Linked DNA regions of Homo sapiens. The protein of the gene in region 2 interacts with the protein of the main gene of each other region in a pairwise test. Each region holds a gene or a part of one and is shown on either strand. Other genes may lie near its edges.

Region 1 (3,500 bases), on a different chromosome or scaffold from region 2:
TTATTCCATTTGTCAGTTAATACAGGCTTGCTTCGGGAAAGACTGTACATAGGATAAAAAATAATAATACTAAAGACTTGTTTTCAACACTATCCCCTCTTGGATAGGAATCACGGGAGTTGAATCAGGTTTGTGGAGAAAAATAACAAATTTGTGTCTCTTAAAAGTGTGATATTACAAAATATATACTTGGTCTTCAACCCTGTTTCCTGGCATACAACTCCTAAAATCATAAGAATCTCCAAAATGATGTCTTTCTGTATGCTAATAATTGACTGATGGCTGGCAGCCCCTAGGCAGCTTTAGTATGGAGGCTGGTCACCAGAAAGACCAAGGCATGATTAGAGGGTTGGAACCTTCCGTCTCATCCCCTAACCTCTGGAGACGGGAGACGGGCTAACAGTCAAGTTGATCACCAGTGGCCAGTGGTTTAATCAATCATGCCTGTGTAACGAAGTCTCCAAAAAACCCAAAAGGATTGGGCTCAAAATGCTTCCAGATAGCTGAACACGTAGCAGATCCTGGAGGGTGACGCACCCAGGAAGGGCAAAGAAGCTCCGTGCCCCTTTTCCATACTTTGCCCTAGGCACCTTTTCATCTGTATCCTTTATAACATACACGTAAACATGTTTCCCTGAGTTATGTAAACTGCTCTAGCAAATTAATCAAACCCAAAGACAGGGTTGGTGGGAACTCCAACTTAAAGCCAGTCAGCCTTCTGGCTGAAGTCCAGAGGCCTGTACTGGTGGGGGGCATGGTACGGGGTCGTTTTGGCAACTGAGCACTTAACCTGTGGGAGACAGTGTCAGAAATTAGAGGACACCTAGCTGGTGTCCGTTGCAGAAATGACTGTTGGTGAGGAGAAATCTCCATCAGTGGATCTTCTGTGTTGATTGGTGTTGCTGAAAGAACAGGAAAAAGCACATTGAATGTTGTTTTTCCACGCTCTCTCATTAAATTTTAGGTATGCTATCAAGCCTCTTTTTCTGTGACTTTCCTCCTGACATCTCTCCTTCTGCATATGATCCCCCGAGTTTCATTCTTAAACTCTGCTTTCCACTTTCTAGAAATGTCATCCGAATCCAGGTTTCAACTTTATTCCTTCTGAACCACTGACCCACTAGATATTTCTTTCTCAACTAAATTTCAGAATCCATTTCAATGAGCCTACTGGGCATCCCTAACTAAATGCCACCCACTGTTGCCTCAGTTAAGCATGTTTTTTAAAACAAAAAAAGGACAGGCATGGTGGTTCATGCCGGTAATCCCAGCACTTTGGAGGGCTGAGGTGGGCGGGATCACCTGAGGTCAGGAGTTTGAGACTAGCCTGGCCAAAATGGTGAAACCCTGTCTCTATTAAAAATACAAAAAAATTAGCCGGACGCAGGGGTGCACACCTATGGTCCCAGCTACTCAGGAGGCTGAGCCAGGAGAATCGCTTGAACCCAGGAGGCAGAGGTTGCAGTGAACCAAGATTGTGCCATTGCACTCCAGCCTGGGTGACAAGAGCGAAACTCAGTCTCAGGAAAAAAAAAAAAAAAAAAAAGTCCAGGCGTGGTGGCTCACACCTGTAATTCCAGCACTTTGGGAGGCCGAGGCAGGTGGATCACCTCACCTGAGGTCAGGAGTTCAAGACCAGCCTGGCCAACCTGGTGAAACCCCATCTCTACTAAAAATACAAAAATTAGCTAGGCATGGTGGTGGGCACCTGTAATCCCAGCTACTTGGGAGCCTGAGGAAGAGGAGTCACTTGAACCCAGAAGGCGGAGGTTGCAGTGAGCTGAGATCGCACCATTGCACTCCAGCCTGGGTGACAAGGGCAAAACTCCGCCTCAAAAACAAAAAACAAAACAAAGAATGTATTTTTATTCACAGAAATGTTTCAGCACCTATATTCCCCATTGTGATCATTAAATTTTACATCAACCTGGTGAGGCAATGGTTCCAAGCTATTTGGGCAAACAATAGTCTATACATTGCTGAAGGTATTTTCTATACGTGATTAACATCTAATCAGTTGACCTTAAGTAAAGGAAATTACCCTCCATAATGTGGAGGGGCTTCATCCAATCAGTTGAAGGTCTTGCTAAAAAGTAAAAACTGAGGAGGAACTCTTCCTCAAGACTCAGGACTTATAGACAGACTCACAGAAATGCTACCTGAGTTGCCAGTCTGCTGGTCTCCCCAAAAATTTCAGACCCAAGACTGCAACATCAAGTCCTGTCTGAGTTTACAGACTGCTGCTTACTCTACAGATTTTGAACTTAGCAACTCCGCAATCATAAGCTAAATGCTTAAAATACGTATACAATTAAAAATACATATATAAACATATCTTATTGAGTCTATTTCCCTGGAGAACCCTGACTGATATACCTATCCTTATTAAGGCACTCGATTCAGACAACTGGGCATCAATTTTTATTTCCATCCTTCTTTCACTGTTTACAAAAAGCTAATTCTAACTTCTAAATATTAATATCACCGGCATTTTACTTTTTTTTTTTTTTTTTTGAGATGGAGTCTCAATCTGTCACCCAGGCTGGAGTACAGTGACGTGATCTTGGCTCACTGCAACCTCTGCCTCCCGGGTTCAAGCGATTCTCTTGCCTCAGCCTCCTGAGTAGCTGGGACTACAGGCGTGTGCCACCACACCCGGCTAATTTTTGTATTTTTAGTAGAGATGGAGTTTCGCCATGTTGGCCAGGCTGGTCTCGAACTCCTGACTTCAAGTGATCCTCCTGCCTTGGCCTCCCAAAGTGCTAGGATTACAGGTATGAGCCACCATGCCTGGCCCACTTTACTCTTATCTCCAGTATATTCAACACTTGGACTACTATAAAAGCCTCCAAATAAATCTTCTGCCCTCTGTCACTTCCAATTTTCTAAACACATTATATTCGTCCATGCTTCCTGTTGCTTGGAATATATACCCCAAACACTTACCTATTTAGTAAAGTCTGAGCTCAAATGGTTTTAGTTTGGGGTTTTGTGTGTGTGTGTGTGTGTGTGTGTGTGTTTTAGAGGTGAGGTCTTGCTCTGCACCAAGCCTGCAGTGACGCAACTGCAGCCTTCAATCTTGGGCTCAAATAATCCTCCCACCTCAGCCTCCCAAGTAGGTGGGATGACAGGTATGTACCACCACACCCAGCTAATTTTTTCCTCTTCTTTTAGAGGCAGGTTCTCACTATGTTGCCCAGGCTGGTCTCAAACTCCTGGCCTCAAGCAAAATTCTCCTGCCTCAGTCTCCCGGATAGCTGGGATTACAGGCATGAGCCATGGCTCAAGTGTTAATGCATTAGTTAAATAACACATCCTCCGGAAGAATGACTTTAGGAGTCAGGGAACACTTAACAGACGTGCTAACATTTGCACCCAAGCCATTATCATAGCATATAATTAAGGTTTACTTTTAAAAACTAGGGTCTGCCAGTGCTATAAGATGAATTCTTAAAGTCTATGTTTAAACAATTCTATTTGTTACAAAGACAATTTCTCTT
Region 2 (3,932 bases):
CAGCTCGTCAGAGCGGGAGAACCGCCGGTCGCAGCCTTCTGCTGGGCACGGGTAGGGCCTCTCGTGCACCGGCGTCTTGCTGGGTCTGTTGGGGTACTTGCGAGGCCTCAGAATGGGCCGCAGTGGCAGGTGGTGTGGGTTATAGGCGGCGGCGGCGGCGGCTGCTGCTGCTGCTGAGCTGCTACCAGGCAGCCGGGGTCCCTCGCTGCCTCCACTGGCCCCTGGTCCGGTCACCCCAGCACTGGGGCCCCCCAGGGTAAAGTTACGGATTGTAGAGAGTGGAGTGAGTGGAGGGGGCACCCGCAGGGTGTCCAGTGGGCAGGGAAAGGGCTTACGGTCTGGGCCAGCTGTACCATGTAGGTCTCTCTGGCACTGAGATGGAAAGAATCCAGGATAGTCTGGGATCATTGGGAAGAGACCTGGGTCCGTGGCTGGCTTGGGGGATGGATAGGAAGGAGGTGGTGGGTAGGCCAGAGAGGAAGAGGTGGAGGTGGTGGCTGCTGACAGGAACGCAGAAGGGTCCTGGTAGAGGTCTCCTGCACAGCCAGAATAAGGAGGAGGAGGCGGTGGCGGAGAGTACAGGTGGTCCAGGTCAGGCTGGGTCTGGGACATGGTGCACACACCCAGGGGTCCTGTGGCCAGTGGGTTGGGGGAGGCAGAGGTGACGCTGGATGAGGCTGTGGTTGAAGCTGGGGAAGTGACCCCTTGCAAGATGCCTGCACTCACAATATTGATTATGCCTTCTGGGTAGCAGCTGGCACCAGGGTACTGAGGGTCAATGGAGAACTTGCCCATGTAAGTGAAGGTCTGGTTTCTAGGTGCAGAGACGGGAGCAAAGCTGCTGGGATATGGGAGATCCAACGACCTCTTCTCTCCAGTCATGTCAATGTTGATCATGCCATCTGGGGAGGGGAAAGGCAGAATGGAGGTGGAACAATGAAAATACAGCCAGGACTCCCTTCTCACCCCCGCTCACATAGGTCCATTTCCAAGGCCGAGAGTCTCAGCACTGTAGAGCTGTGGCAAAGTCCAAAAGGTGGGGAAATTGAGGCCCACAGACTGTAAGAAGAGGCCAGCCCAACTGTGGCAACCCATTGACAGTATGGAACTCAAGAACTACCTCCAAAAAAGCAGAATGAGCTTTTCCCAACTCCCCTCCACCCCCAGCCATCTGTGGCTCTAGTCCCCAATAAAAAACACCCAATAATAGCAACAACAATATTTTAAAAAGCCTCATCCGCCCGGAGCTTTTCTCCCTCTTTTTTGCCTGGGGGTTCCACGGCTGAGGCACCAAGACAAACACCACCCAAGAATCGACCTATCCCAGTCAGTGCCGTGATGGTGCCAAACCGAGAGGAGAGCCCGAGAAGGGGGTGGGTGATTTCCCGGCTGCTCCCCATCCCCGGCGCCTTGTGCCTTTTTCTCCCTCCCTCTCCCGCTGCGCTTCAGCCGAGGGCTGCTGGAGCGAATGGGGGATGTAGAGGAAGGAGTCCGTAGGTTTCCGTGCCCTCCCAATCTTCTCCGCCTTTCCCGACAGCCGCGCGTCCCCGCCTCAGCCCAAGGCCAGTGGCCCGGCCTCGAGGAAGGCGCGGGGGCCGCGAGAGACGACTTTCCACAGCATCGCCAAGGAAACCGGCGTCGCCGGTGCCCCCGCGGGCCTCCCTCGGCAGTCCGGGGGCTGCTTCCCGCCGTTGCGCGCCCTCCTCCACCACCCACTCGCTGCCTCCGCCGGCCGGAGCCCCCGCCTTACTAACCCCCTCAACTTCGCGGGCGGCGGGCAGGTGGGGGCGCGCCTCCAGGCCGCAAGAAGGGAGCGCTCCGAGATTTTCCCGGGGTCGGCTCTGCCCAGGAGGGAGCTACCGACGCTTTCCCCTGGCGCTTCTCCGCCGCTCGGCTCTCCAGGCGCGCAGCTCTCCCCGAGAGCCCCGAACTTTACCGTCACTTTGCCCCTGCCCCGGGAGAGGGGAGGTCGAAGTGCTGCCGGCCAGAGGGCCTACGCAAGCCTCGAAACCCGGGGGGACGCCTCTTCCACCCCCATCCCTGCGCTCGCCCGGGGCTGGGCGCGCCGGGGCGCACGCACGCCGGTTTGCTGGCGACCTGGCGCATCTGCCCGCGCGCCCTGGTCTCAGCTGTCGCAGGTTCCTCCTGCACCCACTTCCAGTCTTCAAAGCCAGTGCAGTCAGCACCGTCCACCTGGAGCCCCAATCCTCTCCTGCGATTCCCGCACACCCACTGCACCCCATCCACCACCTCCGGGCCGCGCAGGTCCGGGCCTGCGAAGACACGCGGCTTACCTCCGGCCACTCCGTTCATCTGGTCAAAGGGGCCTCCCAGTTCGGCATTGGGAAAGATGGTCACCGACGTGGCGGCGAGGTCCTCCACCGGGTAGATGTTGTCAGACAGCTGGTGCACAAAACCACTGAGAGTTACTGGGATTTTGTCTACGGCCTTGGCGGTCATCATTTGCTCCTCGCACAACCTGGAGACCCAACTCCCTCGCTACCTGGAGTGTCAGAAAAGCCGTTTTGGAGAGGGGTTGGACTGAGCCTGGGATGGTATCTCCTTTTGCCCTCCACACTTAAAAACAACCACCACACACACCAAGAAAAAAAAATCAACAGAAATAAAAGTAGCAAACAAGTTGCTGTTTTTTAAGAAATAAGAAAAATGTCTATTTGCCACTGACTCTCTCCTGTCTGTGTTCCGGCTGCTGGGAAGCCAGGAGTTGCTGGTGTAGTGTTATTATAACAGTCAGTGAGTCCCCTCGCCGAGCTATTAATCAATTGCTCCTCGCTCAGTTAGACGGAAAGTGTTGCTCTAAGTATTTATGGGCAGGTCTTCAATACCCGTGACGTCGCTGCCCATATATGGACTGAGGAACAGGGCTGGGCCAGGCGGCTTTTGCCGTCACATGGCTGATTTGCATACACGGGCTCGGCCGCGCGGACTCCGCCGGGCTCGCGACTTCCAGCTCGCAGGCGGCGGGGATCGCTGGGGTCCCGGGCGCGCGGCCCTAGCTGCAGCCTGGGTCCGGGGCGCAGGGATCGCGGGGGAGAGGGCGCGCCATGGACCCAGTCACAGCCACAGCAGGAGAGCGAGCTGCTCCAGGCTGCGGCTCAGCCTCCCGGGGCGGGGAGGAATTCCGGTTCTCTGGGACTTTCCAAAAAAGGCGAAGATCCGGTGCCGGCGGCTCCGCCTCCCTAGCCCTTGTTTGGGAGCCATTCCGGAAAATTAAACTTCGGAAAGAAACCGAGCGGAGCCGAGACACTACAGTCAAACCCCTACTCACTTTCTTGGCAGCTCAAAACCGCAAGCAAAAGGAGGCAGCGAAGAAAAAAAAAGCTACATGCATTCACGGAAGCTGACTGCTTTTTTCTGAATTACTTGGTGGAAAGAAGTGGCTGGTGATAAGAGTGAATGCGTATTGCTTTTTTGGAAAGTCTGTTCTATTTATACAGGAGCGAAAACGGAACAGGTTTGGGTTGTTTGTTTGTTTAAGTATTTTGGGCACCTTGGGACTGGGAGGGTAAACCCTAGGAGGAGCAGAATTACTGTGGGGAGCTTCGAGAGAAATCCTCAGCCGGAGACACCCTCCTTCCTCTGCCCGCGCGCTCCCCGCCCCCCTTCAGCTGCTGCGCGGAGCGGGCGCCCTTCCCGGCGCGTCTGGGCGGTCGGCTGCGTGGGGGCGTCCAGATGGAAGCTTGGACACTCACCCTGCCCCTCCAGACACACATACACACACACTCACACTCGCTCCACTTCCGCTACACACTCCCGCCCCCGCTGCCCTCTTCACACACCCGCTCACACACCTTACACTACACACCTCCCTGTTGACTGCGTCCGCGCGCCGTCGTTGCCAGCAGTGTCCCGGCGGCAGAGCGGGCTCCGGGCTCGCTGGACAGGAGGTTCTATGAAGACACTGGCCTAAC

What was found. Proteins that work in one complex are often made in the same cells at the same time.
Region 1: the proteins of EGR2 (region 2) and RIMKLB interact in a two-hybrid assay, tested with the Homo sapiens proteins (one large-scale study listed by BioGRID and IntAct).

The regions. Positions count from the first base shown.
Region 1 is NC_000012.12:8,704,491-8,707,990, reverse strand, and holds part of RIMKLB (beta-citrylglutamate synthase B), read right to left. Parts: intron 1-3,500. UniProt on the Homo sapiens protein: Catalyzes the synthesis of beta-citryl-L-glutamate and N-acetyl-L-aspartyl-L-glutamate. Beta-citryl-L-glutamate is synthesized more efficiently than N-acetyl-L-aspartyl-L-glutamate.
Region 2 is NC_000010.11:62,813,567-62,817,498, forward strand, and holds the start of EGR2 (E3 SUMO-protein ligase EGR2), read right to left. Parts: upstream 2,801-3,932; 5' UTR 2,464-2,800; coding exon 2,295-2,463; intron 903-2,294; coding exon 1-902. UniProt on the Homo sapiens protein: Sequence-specific DNA-binding transcription factor.